4 linked regions of the Homo sapiens genome follow. The protein of the gene in region 3 interacts with the protein of the main gene of each other region in a pairwise test. Each region holds a gene or a part of one and is shown on either strand. Other genes may lie near its edges.

The links.
Region 1: the proteins of NGLY1 (region 3) and NPAS2 interact in binary tests that used the Homo sapiens proteins (3 or more experiments, as listed by UniProt).
Region 2: the proteins of NGLY1 (region 3) and UBXN2B interact in binary tests that used the Homo sapiens proteins (3 or more experiments, as listed by UniProt).
Region 4: the proteins of NGLY1 (region 3) and PAX5 interact in binary tests that used the Homo sapiens proteins (3 or more experiments, as listed by UniProt).

What each region holds. Positions count from the first base shown.
Region 1 is NC_000002.12:100,823,139-100,830,177, forward strand, and holds part of NPAS2 (neuronal PAS domain-containing protein 2), read left to right. Parts: intron 1-7,039. UniProt on the Homo sapiens protein: Transcriptional activator which forms a core component of the circadian clock.
Region 2 is NC_000008.11:58,449,349-58,452,028, reverse strand, and holds the end of UBXN2B (UBX domain-containing protein 2B), read right to left. Parts: 3' UTR 528-2,680; downstream 1-527. UniProt on the Homo sapiens protein: Adapter protein required for Golgi and endoplasmic reticulum biogenesis. Involved in Golgi and endoplasmic reticulum maintenance during interphase and in their reassembly at the end of mitosis.
Region 3 is NC_000003.12:25,780,423-25,787,897, forward strand, and holds the start of NGLY1 (peptide-N(4)-(N-acetyl-beta-glucosaminyl)asparagine amidase), read right to left. Parts: upstream 3,022-7,475; 5' UTR 2,969-3,021; coding exon 2,838-2,968; intron 2,451-2,837; exon of another isoform or gene 2,316-2,450; intron 1-2,315. UniProt on the Homo sapiens protein: Specifically deglycosylates the denatured form of N-linked glycoproteins in the cytoplasm and assists their proteasome-mediated degradation. Cleaves the beta-aspartyl-glucosamine (GlcNAc) of the glycan and the amide side chain of Asn, converting Asn to Asp.
Region 4 is NC_000009.12:37,031,231-37,038,076, forward strand, and holds the start of PAX5 (paired box protein Pax-5), read right to left. Parts: upstream 3,039-6,846; 5' UTR 2,802-3,038; coding exon 2,756-2,801; intron 104-2,755; exon of another isoform or gene 1-103. UniProt on the Homo sapiens protein: Transcription factor that plays an essential role in commitment of lymphoid progenitors to the B-lymphocyte lineage. Fulfills a dual role by repressing B-lineage inappropriate genes and simultaneously activating B-lineage-specific genes.

The sequences.
Region 1 (7,039 bases), on a different chromosome or scaffold from region 3:
ATTTCTGAATGCTAATGGGGTACTTAACTATGAGTAATTCTATTTTAAATCTCAAGGTGATGATGATTAATAGTATCTCAGGGCACTAAATAAACATGTATTAAATATGAGCGTATGTTTAAAGGGGGAGTTTTTAATGCAGTCTTTAAGGCACAACTGCTTCTCACTTGAATTCTTTAACTGAGATTAAGGAGTCCTTGGCATTTTAAGCAAAGTCATTTCTTAGGTAAAGTTCCCCCAGAGACCACTTGAACTTTTGCAAGTCTTAAAACAATGGGTGGTTCCATTTGATGGTTCAGAATAGAAAGGAGAGTGTTGATCCTCTACACTGGTATGAAAAAAACTGTATAAGGAGATGGAGGATGCTGGATATCATAGTGCCCGAGAATCACCTGGGGCCCTTGTCAAACACAGATTCTAACTCAGGACACCTGGGAGAGGACCCGAGCTGCATTTCTCACAGCTACCAGATGCTGCACGCTGGCAAGGTTTTGGGATGCACTGAATCCAGTTCAGCATGTTTACTGAGCATATACCACATAGAGAGCCCAGATGATAAAAAAATGAGAAGATGGGTTGTACCTGCCCTTGAGGAGCTAACAAGGTGAGGTGGCAGGGAGAGAGAGAGGGATTGTAAACTGAAAATGAGGTTCTGGGATGCCATTCTCTGGGGTGGTGGCCAGAAAGGGGCCCAGGAAAGGAGAGTTGCTGGTAGGGCTTCCACATTGCTGACCTTGACCTGTAGTCATATTTGAATGGAGAGCCTTGTGACTTGGCAAGAAATAAAATGCAGATTTTGAAGTCAGACAGACCTGGGGTAGCCTCCCAGCTCAGCTATGGCAACTTTTAACCTGAGACTCAGAGTCCTTGTCAGAAAAACAGTGCAAATGATGCTTACCTTGCCAAGTTTGTAGAATTACCAGTAAAGGACGCGTGTTAGGCCTAACAAAAGTGATTGCTTTTATTACTGTTGATAGGAGAGAGGAGGCTGGAAAGCAAGGAGGACGAAGAGGTTACTAAAATATGTTCCATGTAGTTCACCAATTAGAGATTCAATTTGGTTTACCAGCAAACCCAAGGCCGGCCGTGGAGAACCGGGCCAGGGCTGGAGGGCAGGCAGCTGTGGAAGCTAATCAGAGGCAAAATGGAAAATTATTGGGAGCATGCTTATCTCCACCCTCTCCTGCAGTCCCTGGCTTCTGGTTTGCTTTGTTGATAGCCCTTCCTAGGATATTTTCATCTGAAGCTTTTCTTGGTACTTAAGCTGTAGGTTCTGTTGATCAAGACTGCTAGTGGCAATCAAGCGCTCTTTAAAAATGTAGTGGAGAGGACAAACACCTCTCCTCTTTGAGGGGCATTGGTCTATTCTGTGGTGGGTCACTTTCCAGGATCAAAGCCATCAATCTGTCTTTCCACCATAGTACGAGTTACTTGAAACTAGTGCCGAGCGTGTTGGAATTCACCTGGGGTGCCTTTTATGCTTTGCACTCTAAGATATTGCTTCCTCCTGCCATCTAGGAGAGATGGATATTGCAAGGCAATGGTGTCCTTCACCCTGATATTAGGAGGGGTCACCTGGGTGGCCCTGAAAACACTTCAACCAACATCACTCTGATTTTTTAAAATATATTTTGGGATTCCATTTATTATTTGCAAAGGCGATTTCTCTGCTACCATTTGCCTTCCACGCTCCCTGAAAGTAAATCTTGAAAACCAAGTTCTAAGAGAATGGCAATGGCAGTTTGATGTTTAGGGGGAAGGAAAAGCAGAGGAACCCCCTGGAGCCAAGGCAGGCCTGGGTGAGGGTGGAGACGAGAGAGGGAAAGGAAGGCATCGTCAGGCATGGGAGTACCAGGATGGAAATGGGAGCAGTGGTGGGGGCTGAAGCTGAGAGGTTGGACCCTAGGACTCAATTTGTGGACTTTGTTGCTTTGCTGAAGGCCGTGGCAGATAATGTTCCCAGACCACTGAAAATCATCCAGGCTTCCAGAAAACACAGGCCCATCTAAAGACAGACAGGTGACGAGGTGACAGAACCTAGTGGCGTGATTCTTCTAGCCTCTTCTGAGCCAAAAATGACATGCACAATTTTATGAATGATATTTGTGCCCCTTGGTGATAAAATATTAAGAGCTCGAGGTCATCTGAAAATTATTGGTTTTTTGTTTATAAAAGTACATAGTTTTTGGAAAAGATAGAAAAGAAGGAAAAAACCCCACAATTTCAAGATATATTTTCCGTTCAGTGTTTTTTCTATGCATTGAAATATTTTTATATTAGTTTATCTTAAAAAGCACATGGATATAATCTTGTAAAAATTTTCAAATAGCACAGAACCATTTCTAGTAGAAAGAAAAAAAATTCCCTTCATCCTTGTGGCCTACCCATAATCATCGCCCTATCTTTTATTTGCCTAGCAGAAACTGGATTTTGTACAGTAGACTGCCAACCCACACCTGCCTCTGGAGGTTTATCAGATTGGCCACTCAACCCTGGTGAGGGTGGGGCTGCTGCCCTTGCCAGTGACTGGCTCAGGGTGAGCATGCGGACCCTGTTCTAGCCAATAAAATGTGAGGGTGGGCCACTGGGAGGCTTCTGGGAAAGTTTCCCTGCTCTCAAAAGAGACAAGGAAGGAAACAGTCCTTTCCTTCCACTAGATACTGTGATATGTGGCCATAATGCCTGCAAACTGGGCAGCCATCAGCCACCAGAGGGGCTGGGCCAGGTCTCAGCTGACCTGCGGAAGAATGCAAAGGTGAAGAAGGGCAGGGGGCGGGGAGGTCTCCGTGGTGCCCTTGACTTTCTGAATTACACAAAGAAGAGTCTGTTTTTGAACATGTGTGAGATCATGAAACCATTACCAGATGAAGCAAACTGAGCTAGTTTTTCTGTTGTAGCCAAAAGCATCCCATAACTCTCCACCTTTCTCAGGAGGTAATGACTGATAACCATGGGGCATGTTCTGCTAGTCATTTTTGGCGCATTTACATATACACACACATATGTACACTTTTAAAAACTAAGGCCGGGTGCACTGACTCACGCCTGTAATCCCAGCACTTTGGGAGGCCGAGGCGGGCGGATCACGAGGTCAGGAGTTCGAGACAATCCTGGCCAACATGGTGAAACCCTGTCTCTACTAAAAATATAAAAATTAGCTGGGCATGGTGGCACATGTCTGTAATCCTGGCTACTCAGGAGGCTGAGGCAGGAGAATCACTTGAACCAGCGAGTCGGAGGTTGAAGTGAGCCAAGATCCTGCCACTGCACTCCAGCCTGGCAACAGAGCAAGACTTTGTCTCAAAAAAATAAAATTAAACTAAAAAATAAAAACAAAAACTGAACTCATTTTATGTATATTATTTAGCAACTTAATATGGCATGGATTTTTAATGACATACCTTTTTCTTTATTTTTAAAGGCTACAGAGTATTATTCAGAAGTACAAATAGGACGTTATTTAACCCATCCCTATTAATAAATAATCTATTGAGTTGACTGTTACAGTTTTTGTATTAACTTCCTTATCTGTATATCTTTATGTACATTTCAAGATTTTCTAGGTCAGGGATTATTAGGCCTGGGTAAAGGCACACCTGTTTGAAATATTGATAGATGCTGCCAAATTGGGGGCTAAAAAAAGCTATGCCTGTTAACCTCCCCATCTACAGTGTGTAAGGCCGCCTTGTCTCCATATCTTAACTAACACAAGATATTTTCCAGCTTTTAAATCTTTTTTGTGCATTTTCACATGTTTGAGGTAGTACCATTTATAGTTTTCTATTCTGATTGTTTTGACGTGAACATAAGCATTTTTCCATGACATAAACAATTTAAATTAAATTTTATTGGCTACATAATAGTTATACTTGTTTTGGGAGTGTATCGATGGTACATGAAGACGCAAAGGGAAATATTTGAAATAGAGGTTGTCTATGAAAATTAAGTGGCTATGATCGACCTTGCAGTAAACCTGAAAGATTTTCTGGAAATGGTGTTGGGAGACACACCCCTCCAGTGATATGTTTCCAAGAAAACCCTGAGGAGATGACCTTCCAGGCCTTTCTCAATCCAGTCAGATGGTAGGCTGCCCCAAGCATTTCTAAGAAGCTTTGTTGCTTTTAGAATCCATCAGATTTACAGTCAGACAGGTTCTAAATTCAGTTCTCTGAATGTACAGTAGTTACGTAAACACTTCGTACATTGCATGAGACAGCTGAAAAGTAAATTTGCTGTATTCTTTTAATTTTTTCGACTTTTATTTTAGATTCAGGGGATACATGTGCAGGTTTGTTACCTGGGTATATTGCATGATACTGAGGTGTGGGGTATGAATGATCCTATCACCCAGGTACTGATGTAGTACCCAATAGTTAGGTTTTCAGTCCTTATCCCCTGGCTCCCTGCTCCCTCCAGTAGTCTTCAGTACCTGTTGTTGCCATCTTTATGTCCACAAGTACCCAATGTTTAGCTACCACTTATAAGTGAGAACATGCAGTATTTGGTTTTCTATTTCTGCATTAATTCACTTAGGATAATGGCCTCCAGCTGCATCCACGTTGCTGTAAAGGACATGGCTTCATTCTTTTTATGGCTGCATAGTATTCCATAGTATATATGTAACACATTTTCTTTATCCAGTTCACTGTTGATGGGCATCTAGGTTGATTCCATGTCCAGTAGACATGGACATGGAATCACGATTGCTATTGTGAATAGTGCTGTGATGAACATGTGAATGCATATATCTTTTTGGTAAAATGATTTGTTTTCTTTTGGATAGATACTACTATCAGTAGTGGGATGGCTGGGTCAAATTAGTAGCTCTGTTTTAAGTTCTTTGAGAAAGCTCCAAACTGCATTCCACAGTGGCTGAACTAATTTACATTCCAGTCAACAGTGCATTAGTGTTCTCTTGTCTCCACAGTCTCTCCAGCATGTGTTTTTTGACTTTTTAGTAATAGCCATTCTGGCTGGTGTGAGATGGTACCTTATTGAGGTTTTGATTTGCATTTATCTGATGATTAGTGATATGGAGCATTTTTTTCATGTTTGTATGTCTTCTTTTGAGAAGTGTCTGTTCATGTATTTTGCCTATTTTTAAATATGGTTTTTGTTTTTTTTGCTTGTTCAGTTGTTTAAGTTCCTTATAGATTCTGGATATTAGACCTTTGTTGAATGAATAGTTTGTAAATATGTTCTCCCATTTATGTAGGTTGTCTGTTTACTCTGTTGATAGGTTCTTTTTCTGTGCAGAAGCTCTTTAGTTTAATTAGGTCCCACTTGTTAATTTTTGTTTTTGTTGCAATGGCTTTTGAGGACTTTCTTTCCCAAGGCCAGTGTCCAGACTGATGTTTCCTAGGCTTTTCTCTAGGATTCTTATGATTGAAGTCTTACATTTAAATCCTTAATTCATCTTCAGTTAATTTTTGTATATGGTGAAAGGTAGGGGTCCAGTTTCATTCTTCTGCATATGGCTAGCTAAATATCCTAGCCCCATTTACTGAAGAGAGAGTCCTTTCCCCATTGCTTATTTTTGTCAACTTTGTTGATGCTCAGATGGCTGCAGGTGTGTGGCTTTATTTCTGAGTCCTCTCTTCTATTCCATTGGTATATGTGCCTGTTTTTGTACCAGTACCATGCTGTTTTGGTTACTGTAGCCTTATAGTATAGTTAGAAGTTGGGTAATATGATGTCTCCAGCTTCGTTCTTTCTGCTTAGGATTCCTTTGGCTATTCAAGCTCTTTTTTGGTTCCCTATGAATTTTAGAAGAGTTTTTTCTAGTTCTGTGAAAAATGACATTGGTTGTTTGATAGGAATAGCACTGAATCTGTAGATTGCTTTGGGCAGTATGAGCATTTTAATAATATTGATTCTTCCAATCCATGAGCATGGAATGTTTCTCCATTTGTTTCTGTCATCTATGTTTTCTTTTAGAAGTGTTTTATAGTTCTCATTGTAGAGATCTTTCACCTCTTTGGTTAGCTGTATTCCTATGTATTTTATATTTTAATGGCTGCTGCAAATGGAACTGTGTGTGTTTTGTTGTTTTTTTTTTTTTTTTGAGACAGAGTCTCATTCTGTCGCCCAGGCTGGATTGCAGTGGCGCAATCTCAGCTCACTACAACCTCAGCCTCCTGAGTAGTTGGGACTACAGGCACGCACCACCATGCCTGGCTAATTTTTGTATTTTTAGTAGAGATGAGGTTTTGCCATGTTGGCCAGGCTGGTCTCGAACTCCTGACCTCAAGTGATCCGCCCGCCTGATCCCAGCACTTTGGAACTGTGTTCTTGATTTGGCTCTCAGTTTGGACGTTATTGGTGTGAAATAATGTAGAAATGCTACTAATTTTTGCACATTGATTTTGTATCCTGAAACTTTATCGAAGTCATTTGTCAGTTCTAGGGGCCTTTTGGTGGAGTTTTTCGGGGTTTTCTAGCCATAGAATCATATCAGCAGCAAAGAGAGAGAGTCTGACTTCTTCGTTTCCTATTTGGATGCCTTTACTTTCTTTCTGTTGCCTGATTACTCTGACTAGCACTTCCAGTACTATGTTGAATAGAAGTGGTGAGAGTGGGCATCCTCATCTTGTTCCAGTTATCCAGGGGAATGCTCTTAAAACATTTTCAATTCTGCTAGAGAAGAGAGGAAGGCAAATGAAATGGATAAAACTCATAAGAAATGTTAATCACCCTTCAGGCAAGGGCACATTTGAAAAGCACCACTCTTGGGCATGGACCTCTGATCATCCTTCTACTTCCTCACTCCTAAGTGATAGTGCATAGCCCAGGAACACCCACCACCTGCTGTCCTCCAATAGGAAAGGAAAAGGCAAGATGACAAAAGAAAAAACCTTCTCAGAGTCAACAGACCACACAAGAAAAAGATACCTTGAAAGCAAAAACAACCTATCAGTAGACTTCCTGGGGACATCATGAGGCAGCCAGCATAGCTCTTTGGTCTTTGTTGCATGCATTGAGGCATCCCAAATATCCTAACGCGAATAGAATTGTTAGTCATCAGACTACGTGCAATAAC
Region 2 (2,680 bases), on a different chromosome or scaffold from region 3:
TCAATATATGTAAGATGGACATTGGATCAATATGGAAAGGTAGGACAACTCGAAGTGTGGGAGAGGACTTCCAGGGCACAGGTAGGTAAGAGACAAATGGTTGCATTCTTTTGAGTTTCTGATGAGCCCTTCCAAAGGAGGCAATCAGACAGGCCTTTATCTCAGTGAGCAGAGATAACTGAATAGAATGAATGGGAGGCAGGTTTGCACTAAGCAGTTTCCAGCTTGACTTTTCCCTTTAGCTTAGTGATTCTGGGGTCCCAAGATTTGCTTTCCTTTCACAGTTGTGACAAGGTTTTCAGAAATCCATTGTGGCAAAAAAGAAGCACCTGAACCTTTTTATTTGGGTAGAATAAAAACAGAAACAGTAACAGGATATTCAGATAATATGCTACAACCAGTTCCTTCCCTGTCCCTGACAAAGGTGCGCCAAGGGAAATTAAACCACAGGAAATGTTATTCATGTTAAAACAATCTATTCAGGACTCAAAACTACAAATCAAAGAAAATTTGAAAAACCTTTCCAATAAGTTTCAGTGAAAACATTCTTTATTAGTAAGCAGACATTTCAAACTTTTTGATTACATACATCATGCAAAATGACTGACCTCACAGATGGTTGTCTGTTCATTGTGACATCTTTTTTGAGATGATTATAAATTTAAGATGACTGCAGTAGTAAAAATAATTCATGAAAATGACTCTCAATGAAGCAAAACACTACATAGCACACATGAAATACTGTTCATCCCTCCTGGATGTTTAATTCTCTCCTAATGTAAATCTCTATCTTGGAAGACTATTATATACAAAAATGGCAGTTGTTTTTGTATGTGCATCTATAGGCACTCAACTGATAAAAACAAGAAAATTTCAAATAATTTTACAAGGATTGGTTATTTTTCCTGTTTTGTTAATCCAAAACAGGACAATGCCCTTTGATTTACAATGTTCAATTCTTTTAAGAAATCATTTTCTTCGGAAGATGATTTTGACCCATGAAAAAGTTGTTTTACCCCTGGTAATCTTTTTGAAATGGGGCTGGCTGTTACACATTATCCAAGTTGTTTTCAGTAAGTGAAAAGGAGTAGGGCTTATTTTGAGAATTCCTCTATATTACGGCACTGAGAAAACTTCTCTGCAGTGGTGGGCTCACCACTTTCATCCTGTGGTAGTTCTGGTAGCACTCCCAGTGTGAAAACCCTAGCACAGGTAAATTCACCTCTTTGAAATAAACAGTGACCCTGGAGAAAGGTGAATTCCAAATCTAGTACCATATTCAAGTCATCTGGCAGAGAAGCAGGCATAAAAGAGTTTTCTAGGTACTTGAGGTGCTGCTGTAACAAATACCTAAAAGTAGAAAAGTGGCTCTGGAATTGGGCAGTAGGTGGAGGCTGGAAGAATTCTGAGGAGCATGCCAGAAAAGAAGCTAAACTGCCTTAAACAGACTGTTAGTAGAAATATGGAATGTTAATGCTAGGGCGGCCTTGAAGAAAGGAGCATAATAGAGAATACCTCGATTGCCATAGAATATCTAAATCATCATGAATAGACTGTTGGTAAAAAATGAGGAATATGTTACTGGAGAAGTGGAGGAAAGGAGTCCTTGTTACATAGTGGCGAAAAGCTAAGCTGAGTTGTGTCCTGCCGTTATGTGTAAAGCAGAACTTTTAAGTGATGACTTCAATATTTAGCTGAGGATATTTCCAAGCAAGCTGTGGAAGGTACAGCCTGCTGTCTTCTTGCTGATTATAGTAAAATGTGGAAAGAGGTAGATTGAGGGAAGACCTGTTAAATATAAAGAAACCAGGACTTGATGATTTGGGAAATTCGCGGCCTATTCAAATGGCAAAAGCCACTAAAACTAAGATTCACCGTCAGGACAGCCTTTACTCTAGAGAAAGTGATGAAGATATGGCTGTATAACCTTTTGCTAATACTTCAGAAACATCAAAAGGTCTGAATATCAGGTCACACACAAGACTCTTTGAAGATATTAAGGGTGTGAATCATAGATCCTCTCAGCTATTTCAGAAAAAGCCAAAAACAGAGACAGGATTTTCCAGGAAAGATACGTGAGGAGCCTCCTATCTAAATGAGTGCATCCCTGTGACATATGTAAAAGACCCACAAGTTTCTTGACAACGTTATAGCAGCAGAAGCACCACCATTTTTAACAGAAAGCTTTAGAGAATATAAAAGAAGAACAAACTGATAAGTTGATACTCAGCTGCAAACGTGTGCTACCTTTTGTGAAAAAGTAAAGATGACTCTGAGACAGTCAACAAGCCCAGAGAACAGCAGTGAGCTGAAGATTACTCCCAGGCCTTGAAACTTAAAGAAGGGTGCCTCGCTGGTTTTGTAAATTGATTGGTGCTGATGGCTCCTTTTTCCATCTGTTTCTGCTTTTTGAACAGGAACGTGTGTAACTATTATTGTCTGCCTGTCATGCCATCATACTTGGGAACAGATAACTTGTTTTCTAGGTTCACAAGTGCACAGTTGGAATTATGTCCCAGAAATCACACACAGATCCTCTCCCAAACTTAATTTAGATGGCTTCAATGTGAGATTTGAGACTTTTGAGTTGGTGAGACTCAGATAAGATTTTGGATTTAGAGTTGATGCTGTAATAATGGATTGTGACTTTTGAGCACCTATGAGTGATGTAAATTTATTT
Region 3 (7,475 bases):
AGGGTGATAAACATGTCAGTACCACCAGGATGATATATCCTACTGGTTCAAAACTGCTTGAGCTATTTTAATCTATTCTTTTCCTCACAGCTTTCAGATCTCTACATGCTGGGTCTTTCTCTGGGCTAATTTTCTAGTTTCTTCCTGCTTTCACAATTGTTTAAAAATTCTTATAAAATACACATCAGTTCTCATATAGTTTTTGTTTTGTTTTTTAAAAAACAAAGTGTTGCTCTGTCACCCCGGCTAGAGTGCAATGACGCCATCAAAGCTCATTGCTGCTTAGAACTCCTGGGCTCAACAATCCTCTGCCTCAGCCTCTGAAGTAGCTAGGACTACAGGTGAGCCACCACGCCTGGCTATTTTTTTTTTTTATTAAGAGATGGGGTCTCACTGTGTTGCCCCGGCTGCAATCCTTCTACCTGGGGTGTCCTAAAGCCCTGGTACTACAGGTTGGAGCCACTTCGACTGGCCTTTGTTATTTTGATATATGTTGTTACCATTTAACTATTGATATACAATATAGATTTTCCTCTTTAGTTTCTAGTGAGCATTTTTTTTTTCTTTTTTGAGAAAGGTCTCACTTCGCCATCAAAGCTAGAATGCAGTGGCATGATTATGGGCTCAAGCCATCCTCCCACCTCTGCCCTCCAAGTAGCTGGGACTACAGGTGTCTGCCACCACGCTTGGCTAATTTTTTAATTTTTTTGTAGAGACGGGGTTTAGCCATGTTGCCCAGGCTGGTCTCAAACTCCTAAGCTCAAGCAATCCGCCCACCTTGGCCTCCCACAGTGCTGGGGTTACAGGTGTGAGCCACCGTGCCCAGTGAGCAATTTTATTTTTATATCATCTCTGGACCTCACATTAATCTATTTTTCTCAGTAAAAGTATACTGCAAACAGGCTCCAGCAATGACAGTCACATCCAGTTCCTCAAATTCTTTTTCTTATTAAGTATGTTGAGTAAACTGACCGTGGTTTTGTGTATAGACTGATACCAAAGGCCTGACCCTAAAGCCCTCAAAGACTTAGAGGGCTGTAGGGACATTAGACTTCAAACCCATCATATCCTCTTTCCTATCCTTGGAAAAGCAACGCACAAAGACTTTCTTAAACTCTTAATTTCTCAGCATTATTCCAGTGTGTCCACTATCCTTTGCGCTCATTGTCACACCCCTCATCTTTCAGAATCTTGAAGCTGTGAGGCGGAGGTTGCAGTGAGTCAAGATCGCGCCACTGCACTCCAGCCTCATCAACAAGAGCAAACTCCGTCTCAAAAACGAAAATCAGCAACGAGCCATTAGTAAACATTCATAATGAAGATTATGATGCTAAATGTCATTATTTGCATGCAAAGGTTTCCCCCTCATACTAAACCTCAGCATTTTGGGTTTCACTAGATTTAAAGCAGAAGTGAGGCTTCATTACAAGGCCACCTCTCTTTTCTGACTAGTGGGGTTTTAAATAGCCTGGTGGCTTTCCAGGTGGTAAGTCTCAGCTAATGGGCTCTGGAGAACCCAGCCTATCAGTTCATTTATGGAGTCCCTTGGCATCCTTGTACTGTGAAGAGCTGTAAGGCCTCAAAGAGTAAAAAAGGTGAGTTGAGAAGGTGTCACAGAGCACGAAGGTGGTCCCCACACAGGTCACAATTATGTAGCTGTGAACAGGCCACATGTTGCATCTTTCATAGCATCTGCCACAAAATAAGGGCTCAATATATTTTCCCTTCAATTTACTTTAAAAATCATTACCATTGCCTAAATGAAATATTACTGACATGGATTTTAAAAACTGCACATGTAACTAATGTCTAAAATTGGGTCACGTGAAACCTATAACCTTGAAACTGAGAATTTCCTTTTAGACTTCATGACAATATACCAAACACTTAATGCACCAGGGGCTGAGGGGAACAGAGAACCTAATTAATCACGGTGACCTGATAAATGAGGTAACACCCCTAAAGCAAGTGGCTCTCCTTTAACCTCAGTTCCATTTCCCTACCCCCCCACACCATGTCCCTTCAGATCATTTGATCTGAAGAGTTGAGGTGGGTACTTATTCAAAATGAATAATCAAACTTGCCTCCCAATTCCCAAAATCTGCAAGGTCCCTTAGACCTCTAGAAGTGCAATTTTGCTGACAGGAGAATGAAGGAAATTACTCTCATCCAAGGCGATTACCTCCACGAATTCTTAAAGGGTTATGTTACATAGTAGAATCCAGGTATTAATATAAAAACTGTAACTTCAAAATACTATAATGTTTCAATCAACAAAAGTGGGCAGAAAAAAAATTAAAAATTTTAAAACCCACCACTTCAGAAGCATTATGCTTTAGTACTCGGATAGTCTCAACATGGGAAGAAAACATCACTTTGTCAGTGAGTAACTTCTGATAAGTATGTGGAAATGTAAGCCACTCCGCTCGAAAAATGCACGCAGGGGGAATGACACGCGCGGTGCGGTTACCGTTGTGTCCCGATATCTGAGGCCGTTAAACGACGAGAAGAGCGGCAGTGTCTGAAGCACGCCTTCCTACCTCTCCTCCGCCCGGCCCCGCTTCCGGGACTCCAGTTCACCCGCAGCACCCTGACTGCAGGTGCCAAGTCACAACTGCAAAGAAACTTCCTTTTCTCGAGCGGGGGTGGGACTTGGCCGGGTCCCGAGGCCCCTGGCCGGCGGGCTCGGACGTTAGGAGCAGAACCAGCTCCAGGTCCCGGTCTGTCCGGGCGTCGCTGCCCTCTGAAGCTCAGGCCGGACGCCCCAGTCCCTGGCCGAACAAGGTGCCGCGGCCCACCCACCCCGGTACCCGCCGTCCGACCCCGTTGCCCTGCACCTGAGGATGTTGTCAGCATAGGTGAGCAGCAGCTTGGAGGCCTCCAAAAAGGTCTCCGGGGTGTTCTGGCAGAGCTCAGCCACGGCCGGGGACGCCGAGCCTGAGGAGCTGCCCAATGCCGCCGCCGCCATGCTTGAGCGCCAGCGGGCGCCGCCGCCGCCCCTCGCTCTCCGCGTCCCACACTGAGCAGGCGCCTCAGCGCGCAGCAGCTACCGCAGCCACCGGCAGGGGCGGGGTCCTCGGCCGGCAGGGGCGGGGTCCTCGGCCGGCAGGGGCGGGGTCCTCGGCCGGCAGGGGCGGGGTCCTCGGCCGGCAGGGGCGGGGTCTTCGGCCGGCAGGGGCGGGGTCGGGGGCCTGGGGCGGGGTCGGGGACCGGGGCCAGGAGCGGGGGAGCTCGGCTGGGAGCTACGGCTGCCCCTTCGCGGGGGGCAAGGGGCTGTTCGGAAGAAGGTGGGGGGCCTCGGCCGGCAGGGGCGAGGTGCTTCGACCCAGAGTTGGGGCCTGGTCGTACAGGTTGGGAAGGGGTTCCGCAGGGAGAGGCGGGGCCTGGGCTCCGGGGCTGAGGGGTGTGGGCCTGGAGGAGGGGGATGTCGAGTCCTTTAGGACGGAGGAGCTCGGCTGGAGGGGAGGCCGGCTTTGGTCTAGAGGTATCGGGCGAATGGTGCTGGCACGTGCCTCTCAGAAACCCGGATCCCTTTGCGCTCCGGGGCCAGCCTAATTGATCCAGCTATTAAGGTGGAGAAACCGCATGTACCTCCCTCCTTTCCCCACAAATAAAACCACCTTAGAGCCTTCTCTTCGCAGATTGTCAGGACGTTCTACATAGATGTGGATGAAAGACTACAGAAGGAAGGAGCAACAAACGTCAAAAACAAAACCATGGCTATAAACTCTGCTGGGTTTGTTATATGGATTCTTTTCAGAATTTGGCTAATGACTGAAAATCTAAGTTCCAGCTCAACTAGTATATGATTCCTCTGTAAGGAAGTGTATTTTTAAACCATAGGTTGCGACATAATAATGGGTTGTGGATTCGGTTTACCGCGTGGTGACCAGCGTAAAACACATGCATAATAATTACGCAATATTATAGAATGTCGGGGGCGGGAAGGGAATAAAAATTTGCATCCCACACAGTAAGGGTAAGTAATATTTTGTGACTTGTTTTTTAGGTAGATCATGTGATCAAGGTCTTTTATTCCTCTTAGAAGATGCATCCCTTACTACTTTAATCCAGTCTCTTCCCCACCATGTTCTTGAAAGTGTACTTTACCAGTGGCTTCCTTCTTTGCAGAAATTCCTTTTCAACCTCACGAAGTATTTTTCTTGACTTTATTTCTTAAGATAAGTGATTTGCCTGAATAACCTCTTTTAAATTTCTTGATGTTTCATCTGTTTACTTTTAAGAATTGAAATTTTCTTCCAGAATCTCCGAACAAGACCCTAAGCTATGACATCCAGTTCAATGACTATTCGTCTCCCAAATATACGTACGCTTTTAATAAATATGTAAATCTTTGGACCACCTTCCAAGTATGGTGTGTTCAACAGATAGTAGTATGTTACTACCGTCTGTAACTAAAATTTTCAGGGGCTTAACACAAGAGTAATTTCTTTCTGGCTCATATAACACTTTAATAATGCAGGTGTCATAATGTCAGTGGACCCAGTCTCCTTCCATACCTTAGAACAGGGGTCAAGAAACATTTTCTGTAAAGGGCCACATAGTGTTTTAGGCTTTGTGAGCCATAAGGTCTGTCTCAACTATTTAACTCTGCCTCTGCAGCTGTTGCTCCACAGACAATACTTGAAAATAAATGGGCATGGTTATGTTCTAGTGAAATTTTATTTACAAATCCAGGCAGCCTGCTTGGACAAAAAAAAAAAAAAAAAAAAAAAAGTCACACCTACTTTTAACCACATGAGCCCAGAAATGACACACAGCATTTTCTCTACCATATCATTACTAAGAATGAGGCCTCATCAAGATAAAAGGGGGTATTTCAGTAAGGCCAGATTTACAAAAAATAAAAAAAAAATTTAAAAACACATAAAAAGATAAAAGGGGAGAGTCTGGGAAATGTAGTCTCGTCCAACTACACAATGGATTGGGGGCTTGGGTCTGGAGATATAGCTATCACAAACTTTATTCCTCTTAATTTGGGTTTCTTTTTCCATTGATACATTTATTTATCCTTTACTAATTATATGAGAATAGTATATATTATACAGTACTTGTAACTTTTAAAAATGCAACAGAACTTTTTTTTTTTTTTCAAATAAAATTTTAGGGGCTGGACATGGTGGCTCACGCCTGTAATCCCAATACTTTGGGAGGCCGAGGTAGGTGGATCGCTTGAGCCCAGGAGTTCAAGACCAGCCTGGGCAACATGGCAAGACCCCATCTCTACAAAAAAAAAACAAAAACAAAAACATAGGAAGATTGTCTATATACAAAACACCAAAGTGGAAATGCTCTGGTATTGAAGCAGAGGTGTCAAGTGAAGGGCAGAAAGCTGTCAGCTAAGGCTTTCCCCTGACAGATAGAATGGTCATAGGGTACTTTTGTGGGGGAACAAAATGACTTTTGTTTTTCTCTTCATAATAGTTTGTTTCCTCAACTAAAACGCTATCTCACTGTAAGTTATCATTAGTTTTGTCTTCCCTATTTGATTAAAAGTCTCTTGTGCCATCTGTCTCAGACTGCTTTGCACACAGCAGGTACTGAATAGAGTTGTTGGTTAATCACTCAATGTAGTCACACAATAGTGAATCACTATACAAATTCCTGAAAGACTTCAACTCCTCCCCTTGCTAATGGTTTTTATGGAGGTTAACTTTTTAATATCACCAAACCAATCGTGGGGAAAATTTACAGAGTTCTTTCTTTTTTGTTTTATTAAAGAATAGTGTTAGCCAGGCGTGTTAGTGCACACCTGGAGTCCCAGCTACTTGGGAGGCTGAGAGGCAGGAGAATCGCTTGAACCCAGGAGGCAGAGGTTGCAGTGAGCTGAGGTTGCCCTACTGCACTCCAGCCTGGGTGACAGAGCGGGACTCTACCTCAAAAAAAAAAAAGAATAGCGCCATGATATGTCAACTCTAAAAATGATGTTTTTAATAAAGGTGAAATCCTGGGGAAAAAAAAAATCTTTATTTTGGAACAAAAATAAATAAATAAAAGAACAAGAATTTCAATGCTGATTTAGTACCCATTCTTTGGTTGTTTGAAACAACGATGGGTATAAAAGTTAGGGTAGCTTATTCAGCTTTTCTAAAGGAAATGGAAGAATTAGAATATCTCCAACTTGACTGAAGTGGGGGAAGCAGCCAGGAAAATGAGAGACCAAGTCCCTTTATATAATGGATTCCCTTAATAGCTTTATAAATGGCAATATTCAAAAGAGATTACAGTTACTCAAGAACTTTAACAGAAGTGTTGCTAAAGAGTTATTTGGAAGGACTTAAATTTCAGATGATTTTTTTAAAATGGTGATTTCCATGATTTTATGGACTGTACATTGTTATCACAATATTAATGCTATGGCATTGGTTTTCGCAAAAGTCATTTGGTGAGAAATGCACAAAAAGTGCATGTGTACTATCAAATGTAAGGATAAATGTTGATTTATTCATTCCATAATTCATTCATTCATCATGTATTTATGAAGTGACTACTAGTTGCTCAGCACTGTGAAGGAGACAAGTATGGTCCCTACTTTCATAGAAGTCATAAGTTTAGAGCAGTGGTTGGACAAGCAACAGCAGCATCAGCAGGAAACTTGTCAGAAAAACAAATTCTGAAGCTCCACATTTAAAGGTGGGACCCAGCAATCTGTGTGGTAACAAGCCCTTCAGGTGATTTTGATTAACAGTAAACTTTGAGAACTACTAGTTTAGAGGGAGGAAAATTTCACTGTGGGCTGCAGTTTCAGTGAGGGGGGACAACTTGAACAGAAGCCTTAAATTGAGAGGTTGAGAAGGTGAGAAAGGAGAGGACTTGCTACCTGTGAGAGACTCCCCACCCTCCTTAAATCATGTACAATATCCTAGTAACGTTTCCTTCTCAACATCTCCTGGATCTCTCCTTGCCATTGCCTTCAGAGCCTCGTGTTTCATCCATTCTTAACTTTCTTCCCTGTGTCCATTTCCACATCCTTCCAACCCACCCTGCTCATTTGTGCAATAGTGATCTTTCTAAAGCACCCATCTGATCATGTTGTTCTCCTGGTAAAAAGTTTTCTATGGCTCCCTCTATCCACATTCTAAAGTCAAATGGTGTCAGGAACCAGGCTGGTAAGTTAAATATTTTAAGTGGCTTTGTTCAAGACAAAGAGGAGTAAGAGAGACTCCAGTGAAGGGAATGAGAGAGTTTACCATGTCCTTTCTAGAGGAGTTTAGAATCAATAAAAGAATGTTGCACTCCAAATTATACCATGAAGGCTAGCATATGGTCTCTGAACTACGGGATTAAATCCAAAGTCCTCAGTATGATACCCCAGGCTTTTGTGATCTGGGCCCTGCCTTACTCTCATGCGTTTACTGTTGCTTTGTCCCACACTTCAAATTTGACATGGGCCACATATTTAGCTGTTTGTGGAAGATACCATGACACTTCATTTCTCCAGGCCTTTGTTCTCC
Region 4 (6,846 bases), on a different chromosome or scaffold from region 3:
GCCAGGGGCGCTGGGACTACTCTCTCTCCCAAAGACTTGAGACAGGCAGCCCCTTCTAAAGCCTCTGCTTCCCCGTTTGTTTAATACAGAGAACAAATCCTGAGATGTGACTTCTTAGGCTCTGTGAGATGAAGCTTCATGGATGGGGGTTATTAATATCTATCACTCCATTCCAGGCTCATTCCAGAACTGTGAGACTGGATGTCAATGCCCAGTGGGAAAGTACTCAATCCATCCAGGTCTGCCCGGATCTAAGGACTCAAGGGTTCCCATGGCAAGGAGAGACTACTACTTGTCCAAGTAGTAGTTTTTCTCCAAGGGGGTCCATGGAGAGAGGGGGGAATCTGTCTCTTCTCCCAGCAGGAACAGGAGGTCTAAGGGCAGAGAGGTCACCTTCCATTCCTATTCCCTCCCTTACTCATGCTTTATGATCTCGAACAAGTCCCTTCCCCTCTCCGAACCTCTGAGTTTCCTTTCCCTACAGCAAGGAAGACATTAGAGGAGAAGGTCCTTAAGTGGCTCCCTGCTTAGTGTTGACCTGACCTTATTTTGGGCTTAGAGCCAGAAGGACACACTCCCTCCCCATTGGGCAGATAGGGAAACTGAGGTTGGGGTAAGAAATGGAATATGGTTCTGAAGGAAGAAAAAGGAAGTCTATTGGCCCATGAAATACCCAGAAGTTGGGAGAAGGAAGAAGCTCTCATAGGAACCAGACCTGGACAACCCTTTGAGCACCAGCTTGGACAGCTTCTCAGCTTCCCTCTCTTCTCCAGCCCTGACCCAGGCTGGAGTGGACAGATGGAAGTGCAGTCTCACTTGAACTGTCGCCCTTTTCCAGGCAGGCAGCTCTTCCCCAACCCATCAGTGAGGAGGGGGCGTGGCTCTCTAGATTTTAAGGCTTGGCCAGCCTAGGGCTCCCGTATCTCACCCCACCCCAAGCCCCACCCAGTCCAGCTATGCAGAGGAATAAAATGCTTTATTGATTAAATGATTATTCAGGCAATTGAACTAATCAAAGAGCCCATCGACCGCCATGAATTACATTCTTCTACACAGCTTGTCGGGAGAGCCAGCCCGAGGACTGCGCAGACCCTCTCCATGACACTCACACATCCCCGCCTCATTCCCCACACATACACAACACCCACTTCCAGGCTCAGGTCTCTCTGAAAGTCCATCTGCTGAGAAGCCCACTGCCAGGGAGAAGGGCCTTCTGAGAATTGAGGATGGAGAAGAGGAGTTTCCAGGTAACTTTTCCTGAGCCCTCATCCTGGGAGCACTCTTCTGCCTCAGATCTCTGCCCTCACTTCTCTCCAGCCACAATTTTGGAAACACAGTTATGCCCCAGAAGTTGTCCTGGGCTTGGGGTCTAAGTTTATCCTTTTTGCTCTTAGGCTTGTATTTGAGGCTGGAGGAGAGATGGGGGTTCTCAGAGGGCACAGAGATGGGGGAAGGGGGCTTCTTGCCAGGGCCAAGAGAGTGTTTGTGTGGGAGTTACACAGTGGCCTAGTGAGTGAAAGAGGCCCCCCATACCTGATTCATGCCTCAGGGCAGATGGAGGCCTACTGTCCCTGCTATCTCCTCTCAGACATAAACACATCCTGCTACCTACTTCTCAGGCCTGTGGGAGGCACATGGGGACCTAAGCCAGGGAGGCCTGTGCGCATACAGGCCCTAGAGCTGAATGCCCAGACTATGCACATGCATCCACCCACTGTGCTCTCCTCCACTGGTGCGGCACCCACAGGATAAAACCTGAGGACACAGTGTGTGTGTGTCTGTGTGTACACACAAATACACACGCCAGTGTCAGAGGCTTGTCTAGGTGAAAGTGAATGTAGGCTGGGGGTCCCTAGAAATGTCACAACTAACCCTACAGGTGTCCGCTGTCATCTGCAAGGTTGTGCCTGCCACAGGAGACCTGTTTGTACAAATGGTAGCCTGAACAGTGCTCACTGCACACCAAGAGGCTGCATGCCCTGAATTCACACCTTCATTCCTGGTCCTATCTCCCAATAGAATGGACACTGGGCCTTACAATGCACATGCTAAACACCACGGATCTCCATAGGCCCCAGACCCACGTCTAGGAGTTTGCCTAGAGACACAATGTGAACATTGGCGTGTATGCATCGGACAGCCGTTGACATCCAAAAATGGAAAGGTCAGTGTAGCCACTTCTTTCTCACATCCAAAAATCACTTGGGATATAACAGGTGAATGCAGACCCTTTAAATAGTGGATGTACACTCAGATATTTCCGAATTACATAAATAACACTCATAGTAGACACACATTTTGGATACCCAAAAGAATATACACAAGTACTAACTTATAAACACACACGAATACCCCACGAGTATAAAGATACACACACACACACACACACACACACACAGGCAAACAACTTTTGGACACAAACTCATATATTTTTACATCTTTTAAAAATACATATACTGTAATGAACACACTGAGTCCCTTATATAAACACACAGGCCCTAACTTGCAGACCCCCGGAAGGACGCCAGCGTGAACATTCAGAAACAGAGAAAAACACAGACAAACTCACAGATATTTGGACTGATGCAGAAGTGTGTGAACAGATAGGTGAAAAAACATAACAAACACGCCGCAGTTAGACAGTCTCTACGAAAATGCGGCGCGCCCCCTCCTCCTCCAGGGTCACCCTGCGTGGGGACCAAGGCCTGGCCGTGTCCCGGAGTTTGCACATCTGGAGCCCGTATCGCGGTCCTACCTGTCCTGCTGGTCCGAGGAGTCGGATAATTTTTCTCTAAATCCATTTTGATTTTTCAGGACTTGATGGAATGGACAGGGAAAAGTTTCCACTTTTTTGTGCCTTTTTTTTTCTTTTTTTTTTTTTTTTTTTTTTTTTTTTGGTGCCAGGGGCCGCTCACAGGTCGGAATAATTCAAGCCTTCCGCTCCCCCGCCGAGCTGGGGTAGCTGATCACTGAGCTGAAACTAAACGTTTTAGGTGGAAAAAAAGCGTCCGAAGGCACCGTGAAATGATTAAGGAACTAAAGAGCTTCTCGCCATGTGAGATCATGTCCTGTTCTCGCCAACATCACAAGATGTCCCCAGACACGCCGCGCCCCCAGCGCGCCGCCCCACACTGCCGGCCCGGAGCGAGGAAAGGGTAGGCGCTGCGCGGCCGGGCCTGCTCAGCGCGCCAGACGTGGCGGACCCGGCCCGGCCGGAGTAGAGCGGGAAGCCGGGAGAGCAGCAGTGCTGCTGCCGCGCCGCCCCAGACTTTTATAGGGGTTGGGGGGAGGGAAGGAAGGCTTCAGCCTGCGCCGGGCGCTAGCCAGCGCACCTACGGGAAGGGGCAGACCGAAGCGGAGCCCGGGAGCCCGGGTCTTCCAGCCGCACCTTCTATTAAGACATGCGCTTGGGGGTCGCGGCCCTCTGCGCTGTGCGCGGGGCCTGTGACATCTCCATGTGCAAACCCCGCTGCTTAGACGAGCGCAGGCCGGGTTTTTGTTTTTGAAGAAATTAACTGCTCGGCCAAGCAGGTGCTTTTGAAAGGGGTTGCAAAGGCTGGCAGTGTTGCCAGGCACCGAGGCGACGTTCCGGTTTACTCCGATTCACCCCTAGGGCGGCGCCCGACCCCAGGGTTCCCAGCCATCCAACCCCCACCCCAATTTGTTGGGGTCCTGACTATTGCTGGGCCCCTGACCCTAGGGCAGCGCCAGATCCCTAAAGCCCCCAGGTCCCATCCAGTCTTCTAGTCCCAGAACCCCTCCCCACATCAAGTTCCATTCTGGCCCAGAGCATGGAGGTTAAGCTGTGAAATACTGGAGATGAAATCCGGGCTTCCGCTTTGGAGCACCCGGGCAGAGCAGAACATCTCAGTAGTTTCTGGAGATTGGCGGGAGTTCCAGACACCTTACCCCGGCCCATAAGTGGAATCGCATTGCCCTCGAGCCCTGAGACGTTGTGGAGTCCCAGAGCCCCAGGACTTGATTCCAGAGAGGAAATCAGATCCACAGAGACCGAGCAGAGGTGTGGCATGTCCAGCCCTCTCTCTTCGGGCCAGACTCAAGCCTCCCCTCCCTGTTCCCCTCCCCAGCCTTGAGTTAGTTCAGCTGCTGGGCCTAGCCACTGAAAGCCTGTGGGGCCCTGCAGCGGGGTGGTCGCAGGGGAAAGGTTCTCCAGGGCGGGGGAGCGCTCCGTAGGAGGACTCCTGGCCCGCCGGACAATGGCAGTTTTGGAGAGTGAATCGTCCTCAGCAAGAGTGTTGTTTGTTTTTTGGAGGGGGTGGTCACGAGGCTGGGTCGCAACCTAGGGGGAAGAGCCTAGAGCTCGAGGAAAGGGGGGCCCCCGGCGGCAACTGGACATCACATATCCACTGAGCAGATTTCGCCACAATCGGAAATGTGGCTGTGGATTCCCGGGCGGCCCCCCCACCAAGTGGTCTGCGCAGTTCCCCAGCGCCGCCTCCTCCCTGCAGCCTGCGGGCCCGTGTCCCTACCCCGAGATTTGATTTTTGGCCATCTCCGAGTGCTCGACTCTTTCCCTCCGCAGCCCAGCCCCAGCCCAGGCTTCCCGCCCTCCCGCCTCGCCCGCGCCGGGAGGCAGCGCCTGGGAGGAGCGGCCTGTCCGCGCCTGGAGATCAAAAGCCCTCCCGGAATTGACATTTCACCCCGGGCTGGGGGCGGGGGGTGTTGGTGTTTTGTTGTTGTTGTTGTTTCCATTTAGAGGGCTTGTTTTGTTTTTGTTTGTTTTCTGTGAGTTTTCATTTTTCCATGGGATATTCTTTTGTTTCGGGTGTTTTGCGTGTTGTTTTTTCGTGGGATTGATTTTAGCGGGTTTTGCTCTGTAAGTCCTGGTCTTTGGGGTGAGTTTTGATTTTGTGTAATTTTGTACTTTGTCCTTGTAGGCTGTCTTTTTGTGTGTCGTTTGTAAGGCTTTTCCTTCTCCGCGGTGTTTAGATGTGTTTTGATTTGGTGTGAGTGGGTGTCGTCTGTGTGTGTGTTGCCTTAGGGAATTTCGTGTTGTGTGTGTTTTGTTTCCTTCGATTTGAATTTTATTTTTTTGAACTGTACGTTTTGGTGGGGGATCGGGTTATATTTTCATGTGTTGTCTTTAGTTTTTGTGTTTGTGAGATGCGCTGGTGAGAGTTTGCGTGTGTATTTTGGCTTTTGTGGGGCTTTGGGATTAGGGAGGGGACATCAGCCGCTACTCCGTTCCTGCCCGCACCCATGAAGGGCAGAGGATTAGGCCAAGCATCACGAATCGTAGGTTCGCCGTGCTCCGCCGCTTCGCGCTCTGGACGCTCGAGACCAGCGGGAAACAAATGTGGTTCCCGAGGGGGCGCCCGCTGGTCGTCAAAACCTCGCGGGCCCGGAGGCGCCGCTGCTGGGTCAGAATCGCAGAGCCCCCCTCGCGGGGTACCGAGGCCCAGCCGCCGTCCCCTTGCCCACCCTCTCCCCTGTGAGTCGGTCTCCCCTTGCGCCTGGCCAGCATGCTTCGGACCGTCCGGACTCCCGCAGCGTTGGCCCAAGGGGCGGCTCCCCTCGGCGGAGCAGGTGACGAACCACTTCGGAGGACACGGAATTGACACTGCGGCCCTAGAGATACGGGACAAGGGGCCAGAACGCGGGGAGTCTAGGCTCAGATCGGAGTCGGGATCCCGGGAAAATCCCCCATCTCCCTTGCCCGCAGCCCTAGAATCCCAGAAACCCAACTCCGCGCAGCTTTCGGTTTGGAGAGCCCGCCCTGGTTTGCAAGCACAGATACATGTGCCCACACCCGAACACACGCAGACACCGCCAGAGAGCGAGACAGCGAGCGGGCGCCTCCGTAGCAGCGGCCTGCGGGGCGGAACCGGAGCTGGCGCCGCCTCAAGGGGAAACCGAACTGTAGTGACCGGAAATGTCCCCAGGACAGAATAAGCCATTCCTTCTGTCCACGTTGCCAGGACTTCTCCAGCTCAACACACCTTGGTTTGTTTAATGTTACACGAGGGAGAAGATTTAGAGGCAGAGACACATGCTGGCTCAATCGGCGAGGAAATACGAGCAGAGTCTAAACAGAAAGAAATATGGAACGGGGGGAGACTAGACTGTGGGGAAGGCAAATTGGAGGCCCAGAAAAGGGGCTGGTGCGGAAGCTCCTCCAGGCCCCTGGGCGCTCTGGCATTCTGTGAGAAGGAGAAAGCAGAAGCCGAGAACAGAGAGTGACAGGAAAAGAAAAGAGACGCAGAAGGGGTTGGCCTAGGCACGCTGCGAGCTGCCCTCCAGCTAAGACGCTGCGGGCAAGGGAGGGGGAGGCCGACATCGCCAGGCGAGGGGCCAAGGTCGGGCTCTTTAACTCAGCCAGGAAACATCGTTGGGGGCTCCAGGGCTCGTGGAGCCCGAACTGGGGCTCATTTCCGGCCCGATGCCCCTCTTCCCCAGACCCCTAGCCCGGAATCCAGCAAAGGCTGGGCCATCGCCGTCCGCCACTGGGCCTCCCTCTGTGCGAGCCCTGGGAGAAGCCTCAGGGAACGACTCTGGCACTGGGGCTCGGCCCCGGAGCTAGCGCAGAGCGTGGGTGGGAGTCGACATCCAGGCAGGAGGCAAAGAAGAGGCCCCGCCCTAAAGCCGAGGGCCCAGTTCTTCGAAAGCCTGTGGCCGGAGCTGGACTCACAGGATTCGGGGTCCGTACAGCGCGCACGTGGTACCGCATCTTCGGCAGGCGGCGCCCCTAATGCCCAGCCCCGCCCTGCTTCGTTTGCCGGGCCTGAACTGTGTCAGCATTGAGGGTGGACGCCGAGTCGCGGCGAGTTGGTCCCTTGCGGTATAAACTTGGGGCTTCCCTAGGGGCGGTGCCGGGATGGATGGGGG